Linked DNA regions of Homo sapiens. The protein of the gene in region 1 purifies or fractionates together with the protein of each later gene. This does not show direct contact. Each region holds a gene or a part of one and is shown in the gene's direction. Other genes may lie near its edges.

Region 1 (4,007 bases):
GTGATGAATTCAATTCAGTGTACTGGGAATTAAAAAAGGAAAGGAAAAGCGTCCTAATTCTCAAGTTAGAGGACAATTAAGAGATGATACTAATAGTTCATGAAACAACTTTTCTATTAATGAAATAATTGTTAAAGGGAAAATCTTCATAAATACGTCTTTGGAGTTGCTTGAACTGTAGGTAATTTCCACGTTTAGCTTAGGAGGATGTGTGAGTTAGTTTTAGCCATAGAAATAATTGGTTATTTTATCTGTAAATTTTATTGCAGTTTTTAACAAGGAATATTAGAACTATGGTCTACTTATTCAAATTATGTAGCAAATTTTCAAAAGGCAAACATTTTAGGAAATGGGTTGTCATTTTTATAGTACTTAACCTATTGCACGAGGTTTCAATGTAATTTTCCCTTATTTTTATATTTTATTTGAAATTTGCTTTTATTTAATTTTAACTATTTAGATAAGGACATATATGTGTGTCTATGTATATGTTTGTGTGTATATATCCACCTGTATTAAAATTAGGCATAAATGTAAAACTCTTGACATAACATTGTTGTATATACATTTCTGTGTGTGTGCTTAAATCTATGCATGTGTGTTTATAAATACGTACATATTTCATATAAATCATAGCTGGCTTGATTTTTAAAAAATATATTTAAGGTTTTAAGGCAGATTGCCCTATTAGATCTATAATTCATCATCTAACACAGTACAGCTACTGCCTTTCTTTAAAAAGTTAAAATTGCTGAATCTCAAAGCAAAGCTACTGACAAGTTTACATTTGTTCCTTAATTTCTGATTATTATTATTATTATTATTAGTTTTTGGCAAGAAAAAATGTAAAACACTTTCCAAAGTATGCAGCTTTAATTTTTACCATAATAATTAACTTTCTTCTCTGAATTACTGATTATAATAGGACCACACTGTATAGCATTTGACCTTGTGTGTGGTAACTTTTACTTCCTGACTATATTATAATTAAAGGTAGGAGAGATGATTTATGTTATTTGTGTCTCTTTGAGATGCTTTACTTGGATTTGAGAACATATCACAGATGTTGATGTTTAATTAAAACAGCTTAAATTTTTTTGTAGCCATGAGCTTTATTTCAATTGAAAGCCAAAGTTGTTTAGCTTGAACTAGCCTAAAGGGTTTAGAGAAATGGAGAGCATGATGGAGGAATTTCTAGTGGGACGTAAGAGTGCTTGTGTTTTGCTGAGAGGGCAGTTAGTTAATAAGCAGCTTGGTTTATGAGGAACAGATTTGACAAGCTTGGATGGAAAAATTAGGAGTGGAGGACCTCAAATGCCAGGCTCAAAAATTTAGAGACAGTGTTGAAAATATTACGATAGTAGAGCTTTAGGAGGATTAGTCTGGCTGGCAGTGTCCTGGATAGATCAGGGCTGGAGGAGGGAGGAAAACCAGGTAGTAGATCTTACAATACAGTTGCTCTCAGTCATGTCTCCCACTTACCCTGACCACAACAGATGTGAGGATGAGTATACCTGCTCATTGGAGAGTCATTCCTATTAGTCACACTGCACTCTCTGTAGCAGAGATTCTCATCACAAGTGGAAACAGTGGGAAGAGGGTGTCATAAGATTTGAAAAAGACCACAAATTATTCTAATACTCCCTCCCTGTCTTAACCAGGAAAAATTATTGAAATTGTTAAGGTTTAAGGCTACAAAAGCCTGAAATAATTTGAAATTGCTAGGAGTAGCAATTGAAAGCAAACTATTGAGGAACAAAAGAAAATCAGCTGTACTTTGCAATTGACTGAGTGTGGTGGCTTTGACATGCCAAGCCTGTGTGACTTGGTCTGAACTCTAGTACAGTGACTGGCATGGAGAAGGGTGTTCAGTGGGAATTTGTGAAATTTGATCATGGCACCAGAGATGTTAGCTGCTGATGTGAGTGGTTGTGCTACTAGGTGGCAGGCACTTAAAAAGAATAATTTTGTCTTTCTCCAGGAGCTTGTGGAAACACTTCCGTGCTGTAAGCCTTTGTTTATTTTTATTGGTATTCCCTGCTTATATGGCTTATATGATTTGCCAGTTTTTCCACATGGATTTTTGGCTTCTTATCATTATTTCCAGCAGCATTCTTACCTCTCTTCAGGTAAGCCTATGATTAATTAACTCTATATAATAACCAATTTTGTTATTTTTCCTCCCAGAGGAGGAATTAAATTTTTTCAAGATGAATGATTATAAGTGGACTATTCAGGTGATAACTTCTCTCTCTCTTTACTAGAACACATTACATTTATTTGAGCACAGGAGTTAGATGGCAGGTTATGAAAATATTACATAAACCGGCCGGGCGCGGTGGCTCACGCCTGTAATCCCAGCACTTTGGGAGGCCGAGGCGGGTGGATCATGAGGTCAGGAGATCGAGACCATCCTGGCTAACAAGGTGAAACCCCGTCTCTACTAAAAATACAAAAAATTAGCCGGGCGCGGTGGCGGGCGCCTGTAGTCCCAGCTACTCGGGAGGCTGAGGCAGGAGAATGGCGTAAACCCGGGAAGCGGAGCTTGCAGTGAGCCGAGATTGCGCCACTGCAGTCCGCAGTCCGGCCTGGGCGACAGAGCGAGACTCCGTCTCAAAAAAAAAAAAAAAAAAAAGAAAATATTACATAAACCTATTGATGTCACTGTATTTTTTATGAAGGTAATTAAGCCTTTCAGTTTCTCTTTTTCAAAATGGTATGATACAGAGGTGTCATATAAATCTTAAATTGACAAGTAACTAAAATATTAAAAGTTTTTAGAGCTTGTGTTAGAGCTTATTTGGAGTGTGTTTTTTAAATTCCACTCAAAAATACCAATAGTTCCACGATGTATATAAATATATATGTATATGATGTGTGTGTATTGCACACATACAGACATGATACATGTTTCACAGACATGCACACACAAAATATTGCCCTAGAAATGATAAGCTTATTGTAACTTAAAGGAAGATCTTTGCTACCTAGGTAAAGGAAAACATAACACAGTGAAGAGTTATTCATTATTTTTTTGCAGAAGTAAAACTTCTTTGCGAGTTGTAGAACAGGAATGACTATGGTATGAGGAAAATTAAGATGGAGTTGATGAGGTTTGGTGACCTAAGGAATAAGGGAAAAAGATGAATCAAAAAATTGATTACTCATCAGAATCATTTTAGGAAAGTCACGTCTGACGGTGTGGCTTTTTGTTTTCTATGCCTGGATTACTAAGATCACCCACATTTTAGTCATCAGTGTCTTCTCTTTAGAGTTGATTTTTTATTTATTAAAACTTTTTTTTCCCCTGGATACTCTTCTGTATATTTGAAATATTGCACCCTAAAAACATCAGGAATGTGTTATTGTTTAAAGCCTATGAAAAAAGTATCTTAGTGATCATATTTCAAGATACGTACATTTTTTTTTTTTTTTCAGGTTCTGGGAACACTTTTTATTTATGTCTTATTTATGGTTGAGGAATTCAGAAAAGAGCCAGTGGAAAACATGGATGATGTCATCTACTATGTGAATGGCACTTACCGCCTGCTGGAGTTTCTTGTGGCCCTCTGTGTGGTGGCCTATGGCGTCTCAGAGACCATCTTTGGAGAATGGACAGTGATGGGCTCAATGATCATCTTCATTCATTCCTACTATAACGTGTGGCTTCGGGCCCAGCTGGGGTGGAAGAGCTTTCTTCTCCGCAGGGATGCTGTGAATAAGATTAAATCGTTACCCATTGCTACGAAAGAGCAGCTTGAGAAACACAATGATATTTGTGCCATCTGTTATCAGGTAACTCCTTCAATAAGAATGTGTTTGGGTAAGTCATACAGTGTATCCCTTGGGACTGTAACCATATTAACCAAATTCAACTTAAATTTCTAGGCAAAATTATCTTCTGGATTAAAAAAAATGGACCTCAGAAATTATATTAAAGACCTGATAAAATATTTCCATTTTATTTCTAAATTAAGTTTTAAATTTAGTCCCTTGGGTTCTAATGT
Region 2 (4,467 bases), on another chromosome or scaffold:
GCTAAATGTAAATATGTAGCAATGCCTAATAGAGGCCAGGCACTGTTCTGGTACTCTGGGTAGGGGTGGATGGGGTGGATAGGGAATATAAGGACAAATGATATAGGGTCCACGAAGAACTCTCAACCTAATTCTGATGCAATGTGGTGTTGGTATTTGAGAGTTTCCAAAATGTTGTGGGTAGGAGAGCAAAACAATAATATTTGGGTTTTAGAAAGTAAGGCATAAAATAATTTGTTCATTAAATCAAAGGAAGTAAGAAGATCACTTGGGAAAGTTATAATCCAAAAATAGTTAAGTATTTGAGTTTCAGCAGGAGGAATGAAAACAGATTACTTTAAGGAAATATTTCATAATTAGAAATATCCAGGTTTAGATACTGAAAGTGAGGGCCAGAGATAGGAATGGGTTGAAGATGACGCCACAGTCTTCTTTTTTTTTTTTTTTTTTTTTTGAGACGGAGTCTCACTCTGTTGCCCAGGCTGGACTGCAGTGGCACGATCTCAGCTGACGGCAACCTCTGCCTCCCGGGTTCAGGCGATTCCCCCACCTCAGCCTTCAGAGTAGCTGAGATTACAGGCGCGCGCCACCAGGCCCGACTGATTTTTGTATTTTTAGTAGAGACGGGGTTTCACCATCTTGGCTAGGCTGGTCTTGAACTCCTGACCTCAGGTGATCCGCCCGCCTCGGCCTCCCAAAGTGTTAGGATTACAGGCGTGAGCCACCGCACCCGGCCTACAGTACTTCTAACGTAACATCGCAGAAACACTGGAGGAGAGAAGAGAATACACTTCCACTCGGAATTCGCACCCTGGTCGCCTTCATTCGCTGGGTTCACTCGCTGAACTGCCTCGCCCCCGCCCGGGAGGATGACATCTCGGCCTGGGCAGAGACTCGAAAGCCTCCTCCTGCCGCTCGGGATGCTAACAGCAGGGAGAGCTGTGTCTAGTTTTTTTTTTTTTTTTTTTTTTTTTGAGAGGGAATCTCGCTCTGTCCCCCAGGCTGGAGTGCAGCGGCGCGATCTCAGCTCACTGCAACCTCCGCCTCCCAGGTTCAAGCAATTCTCCTGCCTCAACCTCCCGTGTAGCTGGGACTACAGATGCCGGCCACCACGCAAGGCTAATTTTTTTGTATTTTTAGTAGAGACGGGGTTTCACCATATTGGTCAGGCTGGTCTCGAACTCCCGACCTCAGGTGATCCGCCCGCCTCAGCCTCCCAAAGTGCTGGGATTACAGGCGTGAGCCACCGCGCCCGGCTTGTGTCTAGTCTTGCCCGTAGCAGCGTCGCCGACAGCCACGCCGGGTTGTCAGAGCCTCACTAGTTTTTCTCCCGGCCGCCGCTCTTCCCGGATTCAGCCACCTTCCCTCTTCCGGGAACTTGCCCGCGTGTTCCGGCTCCAGGAAGTGCGTCATCAGTCGGCGCCAGCGGCCGCACGCCGCGGAGCAGGGGCTCGGAGGTCCCGGGATTACGGTGCTCGAGCACGCTGGTGGGAAAGGACCCGGGACTTGAACAGTGTTGTGCGGCGCCATGCAGGTCTCCAGCCTCAATGAGGTGAAGATTTACAGCCTCAGCTGCGGCAAGTCCCTTCCTGAGGTGAGTCACTTCCCGGCCCCCTCACTCTCGAGCTCTTGGGGGTCGTCCTCCTCGTGGGGCAGCCGCCCCTCTCCTCGGCCCTAGCCTCTGTTTTAGCTGGACGCTGGTCACCCCCCGACTCGGGGAGGCCCAGAGGCGGCTGACAATTTCCGGGGGAGGTGTCGGCATTGGGAGACAAGGACACTGCCGTCACCGCGCCAGAAACTGGACCAAGGGATAATCAGGGTCAGTGAGCTTTGCTGGAACTTTTGTAAAGTTCTCTGTTCCAGAGAACGCAACCATTTGGGCCTCTTTGGGTGTTCACAGTCCCTGCCGTACATCGAGGAGGAAAACGTGGCAGATTCGTTGACACATCTCTCCCCCATATGGCCATCAGCTGTTTGTGGAGTCCCTATCATTTGCCAGGTCTTAGGGATACAACAGTGAACAAGGGAGATACAGACTTCGCATCTGCAGAATTTATGGTGTAGAGGACAGTATTTTCGAGACTTGTTGAACTTAACCTGATTCCTAGTCTTAAAGTTGGAGAGGGCTTGGACAAGTCGGTAATTCTCTTCCAATCTTCTCGTGTTTAGTAATGCAGCTGAGATTTAATAATGCGTTTAATATGCAGCTGAGATCCAGCAAGGGGAAGGGTGACTTGTCCAGCATGACACACTTAGGCTCTGAAACTTGTCTTTTGTTTCTTATACGTGATGATCCAGCCTCTGTCCAAGCACTACCACTGAGCACTACCTTTTGTGGAAGCTCATTTCCATTTTGAGACTCTGCACTTGTTAGAAAGTGGTTTTCAAATATGTCACCTTATAGCATGCCACTGTTGGCCTGAGTCCTGCCCTTGGAAAACAGAATAAATATAGCTCTCCTTCCATGCGTCTGCTTCTACAAAAATTTGGAGCCAGTGCTTAGGTTTTTCCTTTCTTCCTAAAATTCTGGTTTGAATAATTCCCTGTCTTCCAGTTGTTCTTCACACCCCATGAGCTTTCTCATTTTGTTCATTCATTCTCCACATGTATTGAGAAGTTACTGTGTGCAAGCAACTCTGTTTTAAGTATTGGGATCTATAGTGGACATTTCAGATAAGGTTCCCTGTTGGGGAAAAGGGAAATAAACAAGTGAGCAAATAAGGCAATTTAAGGTAGTCAAAAAGTACTTTTCGTGGTGAATGATTAGAAGAGAGCTGTTTTGGATAAAATATTGAGAGAAAGTGTTTTGGATAAAACCTTCGGGGAAGGCCTCTCTACAAGAGGTGACATATGAGCAGAAACTTGGATGATGAAGAGGAGCCAGTCGTGTGAAGATGTGGGGAAGAGTTTTCAGTGCTGAGAACAGAAAGTGCAAAAGCCCCACATGGGAATGCACTGGACATGTAGGAGGACGGAAGAGGCACAGGTGTGATTGCACTATGCTGAGTGAGGGGGCGAGAGCAGGGTGGATGAGGCTGGAGAGGTAGGCCTGGTAGGAAAGGTAGGAAGTTCAAGTTTTATTCTTAGTGCTGCTGGAAGTCACTGTTGTGTGGGCTGCTGTGCGACAAATGTCTAGCTGGGGAGGGTTCAAGTCGGGATGAATTAGGTAGTCCAGGTGAGCGACTTCGGTGGCTTGGGCTTGCCTGGTAACAAAGAAGATGCTAAAACACAGTGAGATTCAGGACATACTTTGTAGATAGGGTAATGGAACTTGCTAATGGATTGGACTGTTGGTAGAGGGAAGTTGAGGTGACAAAAAGGAAGGAATCAGAGAACTCTTCAGTTTTGAGTCTGAACAAGTGGGTGCACGGTGGTGCTGCTAACTGACATGGAGAAGAATCAAGAAGGAACACATTGAAAGGTGGAGAGGAGGAACGTAGTGAGCAAAAAGAATCAAGATTTTTTTTTGAGGTCGCGTGCAATGGCCTGATGTTGGCTCACTGCAACCTCTCGGGTTCAAGCGATTCTCCTGCCTCAGCCTCCCCAGTAGCTGGGACTACAGGCACGTGCCACCACACCAGCTAATTTTTGTATTTTTAGTAGAGACGGAGTTTCACTATGTTGGCCGGTATGGTCTCGATCTGATCTTGTGATCCACCCACCTCGGCCTCCCAAAGTGCTGGGATTACAGGCATGAGCCACTGCACCCGGCCCAAGGTTTTTATTTTCAATAGTGAACATTTGAAGTTCTAATACATACCAAATGGAGATGTTGAGTAGTTAGCAGTTGCATGGATACTAGGATGGAGATTGCAGGTGAATTTACTGTCGTTATTTGGGACTAGGTGAGATCAAATTGTGAGAGAAAGAACAGAGAAGATAACTAGGCTGAGGACCTGAGGCAGTCTTAGCATTTGTCATCCAAGAAGAGGAGGGGAACCCAGCAAAGAAGAAAGAGTAGTGGGCACTGATGGAAGGGGAGACTGGGAAATGTGTAGTTTTGTAGAAGTAAGTGTTTCAAGGAGGAGGTGGTGGTCACCTGTGTCAGCTGCTACTGAGAGCTTCAGTAAGATGAAGGCAGAAAAATGACCATCGACTTTGGCATGATGCAGAGCGCCCTTGACCTTGGCAAGGAGCTCCAGTGGAGTGGTGGGGAGGGTAGCTTGAGCTGAGTGGATTTGGAAACCCCTGCTTGTCCTGTTTAATATTTTCTGGTTATTTCTTTGAGGTGTGGTGCCTAAACTACACGTGGAACCCCAGTTGTTGTCTGATCTGTGCAAATATTGCTTCTCTCCTTCTGGGCTTTACCTTTTTATTAATGTAGAGAAGCCTCTACGTTTACTCCCCTGGTGATCCTAGGCAGTCTCCTGGCTTTAAGCACATCTGCATATCGATAACTATCACATTGATGTTTCTAGCCCTTACCTCTACTCTGAACTGGACTTGTGTATCCAACTGTTTCTTGAC
Region 3 (2,801 bases), on another chromosome or scaffold:
CAGTGGCCAGCGCAGTAAGCCATGTTTTTTCAGTTGCTGTGTTTTTTGTTTCCATTACTCCTTCCTCTTTTTGTTGAGTACATATTCCTAATGGCTGCAGAGTCCCCTAAGCATGAGTTTGAGCCGTCTACCAAAAATCTACAAACAGCTGTTAGAAACTGCTTAATGACTTCCAACCATTAATGTGGAAGAACTGACCCTGAGTAAGATGGGGGAAATTTGGGAAATTTTAAATTTGTTCAAACAATGGAGGGTAGCATACAGATGGCTTCTAAGTAGCATATAGAAGGATTTGGGGGCTACTCTGTAGCTTCTGTTGTTTGAGTCAGTTTCACATATGCTCCCATTCCAGTTAGGTTTTTATTGAGTTACTTTCCTTATGAAAAGCAAAGAATGATTTGTAGTCATTCTGCCTTCATATATTAATATATGCATAAAAGTATTTTTTACAGGATTTTTTTCCTTGTTCTGGGTATCAAATCCCTTGGCCTCGTGATAACTAAGTAAAGCTACAATCTATCTCCAGGTGGACTTGTATTTCGTGTGTTTCCCTTTCTGCTGGTTACCCATCTGCCTGGCAGCCCTCAAAGGCTGGCTGCAGTTAAGGGTATATTCTTAAACATGGAACCACAAGTTTTTATAGAAAGAAGATAAATCTGGGGCTTGTGTCTGACCAGACCTTGATCTCAGATGGATTATTTGCCATAGTGGTCTTTAAATCTTTTGATCCATGGATCACCTTCAATAGTTCCTTATTTTGGCACCAAGATTAAAATTTCTTAACATGTACTCAGAGTTCAGGGCCTCCAGCAGATGTTCTGATTGGCTTATTTATGCTGGTAAGAAATTGATTTTGTGCTGTAAGCATGGGAAAGCCCTGCCTCACAAACCACTGCTACAGTCATTTTGTCTAAGTGGTCGTTGTAGTTACCGGCCATAATATGTATATGTATGGCCCACTATAATTCCCTTTGAAATACATTGTCCTTGCATGATAAGAACAGGGTGCCCCACAAGTTGTGGTCCAAAGGTAGGCCATAAAGAGCTATGGAAAAACAGTTTCCTAATGAATCAGTACAAACACTCAGGTTTGTATTTTATATAATCAACTCACCAACTTTCGAAATTTGGCCCCATTTCTGGCCTTTTGCTTTAGTAATTTTGTTTAATTAATTTATTAATTTTTTTTTTTTTTGGATTTGCAGGTAAATGTTAACGATGCACGGTTTCAGGCAATGTACACTTCCCACTTGTTCAATTTGGACCCCTCAGATCCCAATTTCAAGAAAACAAAAGCTATGGAAAAAATCCTTGAGGAGAAGGCCCGGCAAAGAGAACGGAAAGAACAAGAACTTACTCAGGCAATAAAGAAAAAAGAGAGTGAGATTGAAAAGGAATCACAAAGGAAGTCCATTGATCCTGCTTTGTCAATGTTGATTAAATCTATAAAAACCAAAACAGAGCAGTTTCAAGCAAGAAAAAAGCAAAAAGTCAAATAACTGGATGTTACTTATTTTTGAACTGAATACATCTTTTCCTAAAATGTACAAAAATAATAGGAGGGAATATTTATTGGGAACAAAGCTATCTTTCAAGAACATGAATAAAATCTTTTTCTGGACATAGTAAAATTTTTCTCCATAAATAATTGTACTTAATTGTGGATGACTGACAAATTTTTATTGTATATTCCTACAGATCAGTCATAATTAAATTACCTGCATTATAGGGTTTATAAAATTTTTATATTTTACAATGTTCAGTTCTAACTAGTGGAAAGTTACTCTAGCTTTTTAAAAGGCTGTTTACAATTCTGTGTAAAAATAGAGCAGTATCTACTCAAGTTTGTGTAAATGTTAGGGATAATTTGAAAAATATATATATTTAATACATTAATTTCTCTGGAAGCAGGAGGCATGTTTAAATAACTATTAAAATAATTTATTTTTCTAGCCATAAAGGATGGAAGTCAAGAACTTTTTGTTGTTTAGTCATGTTAAGTATAGTTTATGAAATTAACTTGTAAATAAAAGTGTAAAATATTTTCATTATTTTGTATAGCACTGATTTATTCCATTTTATGCATCTCAAAGTACTCTCTGGAAAAATATCTGAAAACCGATTTTAACTTTTTAAGAGGACAACTCCATTTAAAGGCAGTTCTAGAGTTGCATTGCTCGTAAATTGCATTTGAAATATTCATGAGCTCTCCAGTGGTTTTTCTGTTTGGTAGCAACAGAAAAGTCTTCTGTCTGTCCTTCACATTTTTGGAATACTTTAGAAGGATGGATATGCTGCTGTAGAGTTTAAGGATACCTTAATTCTTCTTAAAATTAAAACACATCTTTAAGGCCTTAACACTCTTGGATCTCATCTGGTCTAAATATTATAGACAACTGACAGTCAAATTAGATATGCTGTATAAGTAAATGTAAATAAAACCAGACTTGTAACTTGGAGCAAATTATAAATATGGTAACTTCTGAAAGACAACAGGAATTTGACCAGGTTTGTGGTTAAACTTGACATTTGGGGTATTAAAAATCAAACCTACTGACCAGGCAAGGTGGCTCTCACCTGTAATCCCAGCACTTTGGGAGGCTGAGGCAGGAGAATTGCTTGAGGCCAGGAGTTTTGAGACCAACCTGGGCAATATAGTAAGACCATAGGCTGGGTGTGGTAGCCTACGCCTGTAATCCCCCCACTTTGGGAGACTGAGGCAGGCACATCACTTGAGGTCAGGAGTTCAAGACCAGGCTGGCCAACACAGTGAGACCCCCCATCTCTACCGAAACTACAAA
Region 4 (2,840 bases), on another chromosome or scaffold:
CCTGACACAGCGGATTGAACGAGAGAAGAAATTGTTCGTTATTGCTCAGAAAATTCAAACACGCAAAGATCTTATGGTGAGGAGAGAGAGCCTTAGGCCTCTTTTTTTTTTTTTCCCCCTTTTCTTTCTTGTAAAGGTCTTAACTCAGACTAGATTTCAGCTGTGTGTAAATCAACCCCAGTGAAAATGTCTGCTCCTCAGGGGCAGTGGTTTGAGCCAGTGTCTGTTACTCTGACAGTGTTGAAATGCGCCTTGATTAAGGAGGTAATAAGGGGGTTATTAGTCAGTGCTTTGGAACAGCAAAGGGTAGGATCGGGTAGCATATGAACTTTATAGCTTATGAGCAGCTCCCGTAACATTTAAACAGGTTAACAAAACAGTGCATGTCACTCATTGGTGTTTAAAAATAGACAACATTGTGTAGTTAAATAGCAGAGCTGAGGAATATAAGATGCCTCTTTCATATTCTTATCATTCCTCTAAATGTCAAATTCTTTAGCTTTGTAGATCATTTAGGTCAGCCTTTCTCAACTGGGGTTCCGTGAGAGAATTAAAATTATAATTTTAAATGAAACAACTACTTGAACACCTTTCTTCTCAGTTTTCCTAGGACTGTACACAGCTAGTACTTTCTAGATGCCTAGGGGAGAAGTTAATTCATTGCCTACAGTGGATGCCTTGGGCAGTAGGGCTGTGTCCGTTCTCAACTTTGAGAAGGGCTGAAGCAGGTGCTAATAGGTAGTTTATTAACCTTTCGATTTTACAAAACCATTTCCTTCTCTTTACTGATCACCTTTTTACTCTTTTGTAGGATAAAACTCAGAAAGTGAAGGTGAAGAAAGAAACGGTGAACTCCCCAGCTATTTATAAATTTCAGAGTCGTCGAAAACGTTGACGTGTTATAGATAAGCCTTGTCATTCTGTATCAAAAATCTGTTGTCGTTTTCTAGTAACTTCAAATTCCATTACTCCAAATGGCATGGTTTTCCGGTTTGTAACCATAACTAAATTGTCAGTCTGACATTTAATGTCTTTCTATGGACAACATTAAATCTCCCTCCCTTCTGTAATTGTTTTTGGATTGTGAAATTAGTCTTATTTTTATATACTTAATTTTTTTTTTCTTTGAGATAGGGTCTTTGTTGCCAGGCTGGAAGTGCAGTGTGTGATTATGGCTCACTGCAACTTTGAACTCCTGGGCTCAAGTGATCTTCCTGCATCAGCCTCTTGAGTAGCTGGGACCACAGACATGTGCCACCATGTCTGAGTAATGTTTAAATTTTCTGTAGAGACCAGGTTTTGCCATGTTGGCCAGGCTGGTTTTGAACTCGTGGCCTCAAGCGATCCTCCCACCTTGGCCTCCCAAAGGGCTGGGATTACAGGGATGAGCCACTATGCCCAGCCCATAATTTTTTTTGTTATGAAACATAGGATCTCATTACAGCAGATTTGGAAAGTAGATTAATTCATTCCTAATCCCAGTGCTTATTCAATAATAACAAATATTTATTGCATGCTTAACTGTGCTAGGAGCTAGAGCTGTGGAGGTGGACAATTACTGTGAGTAGTCTAGTTGATTTCCTCCATTTTGTAAAACGAGGCATCACTTTTTGTCCATGTTTTTGTGTTTTATAGTTACAGTAAACAATTTGATGTCCTACTTTTTTTTTTTTTTTTTTTGAGACGGAGTCTCGCTCTGTCGCCCAGGCCGGACTGCGGACTGCAGTGGCGCAATCTCGGCTCACTGCAAGCTCCGCTTCCCGGGTTCACGCCATTCTCCTGCCTCAGCCTCCCGAGTAGCTGGGACTACAGGCGCCCGCCACCGCGCCTGGCTAATTTTTTTTTGTATTTTTTTAGTAGAGACGGGGTTTCACCTTGTTAGCCAGGATGGTCTCGATCTCCTGACCTCATGATCCACCCGCCTCGGCCTCCCAAAGTGCTGGGATTACAGGCGTGAGCCACCGCGCCCGGCCGATGTCCTACTTTTTAATTAAATCATTAGCTCTTTCCCAGTTTGTTACATCACAAAAGTTTTTTACAGTAATATATGCTAGAGTAAACGTTAAAATAAATATTATTTTTAATGATTGCATAGTGTTTTATCTAGTGGATAGACTGATTTTACCCTCACTCATTCTTCTTTTATTGGCTATTCAGGTGGCTTCATAAATTATCCAAGGAGGAATTTTTTTCTCTTACTTAACAGCTGCAGATAGAAACTCTTGGAACAAGGAACCTACGGGAGCACCTCTTCCTTATTGATGAAGCTCAAATCAGTATAGGCCTGGCTGTGTCTCTGTCCTCTGCACTCCATGCCAACTCACAATTCCAAGGCTAGAATAGCTTGGTGCAGACCTTCACTCTGGGAATATGGACCCCTGGGTGTGTTGGCCAGCTTCTTTCTCTTCTCTGGTTCTCTCCTTCCTTTGTTTGCCCATATCAGGATTATAGGCCAAGGACAGTAAGGACAGGACTGAACATGCTTAGAGCAAACATGGGAGAACAGGGAGCGGGGTTCTGGGGGGCTTGCGTAGCCCTTACACCAAGGAGGGAGAACAGCCATGTGTGGATTGTAAGGCTTTAAAAGAAAATTGTTAATGCTTAATAAGTGCCCATGACTGTGAGCTTCCTGTACAAGCCTAGACTAGAAGCCTGTTTCCTCAGGGTGTACCCAGTGGAATTTAAATCAGGGGCCCTGGAAAACAGCAAGAAGGGTCAGGAAACAGAAACCAGTAGGTTTTGCCTTCAGGAAGGAAATGCTTCCCATTGTGTGTATGCACTCCCTTCTGGGGAGGTGCTGAGCTCAGTCAATGCTGAAAGTTTTAGAGACTTGAGGATCA

What was found. The genes of interacting proteins can lie anywhere in the genome.
Region 2: the proteins of RNF145 (region 1) and NOL10 purify together in Homo sapiens (affinity purification with mass spectrometry; one large-scale study listed by BioGRID and IntAct). This does not show direct contact.
Region 3: the proteins of RNF145 (region 1) and ESF1 purify together in Homo sapiens (affinity purification with mass spectrometry; one large-scale study listed by BioGRID and IntAct). This does not show direct contact.
Region 4: the proteins of RNF145 (region 1) and UTP11 purify together in Homo sapiens (affinity purification with mass spectrometry; one large-scale study listed by BioGRID and IntAct). This does not show direct contact.

What each region holds. Positions count from the first base shown.
Region 1 is NC_000005.10:159,161,054-159,165,060, reverse strand, and holds part of RNF145 (RING finger protein 145), read left to right. Parts: intron 1-1,981; coding exon 1,982-2,129; intron 2,130-3,438; coding exon 3,439-3,795; intron 3,796-4,007. UniProt on the Homo sapiens protein: E3 ubiquitin ligase that catalyzes the direct transfer of ubiquitin from E2 ubiquitin-conjugating enzyme to a specific substrate.
Region 2 is NC_000002.12:10,686,923-10,691,389, reverse strand, and holds the start of NOL10 (nucleolar protein 10), read left to right. Parts: upstream 1-1,414; 5' UTR 1,415-1,528; coding exon 1,529-1,594; intron 1,595-4,467.
Region 3 is NC_000020.11:13,713,572-13,716,372, reverse strand, and holds the end of ESF1 (ESF1 homolog), read left to right. Parts: intron 1-1,205; coding exon 1,206-1,499; 3' UTR 1,500-2,048; downstream 2,049-2,801. UniProt on the Homo sapiens protein: May constitute a novel regulatory system for basal transcription. Negatively regulates ABT1.
Region 4 is NC_000001.11:38,022,734-38,025,573, forward strand, and holds the end of UTP11 (probable U3 small nucleolar RNA-associated protein 11), read left to right. Parts: coding exon 1-76; intron 77-811; coding exon 812-895; 3' UTR 896-2,087; downstream 2,088-2,840. UniProt on the Homo sapiens protein: Part of the small subunit (SSU) processome, first precursor of the small eukaryotic ribosomal subunit.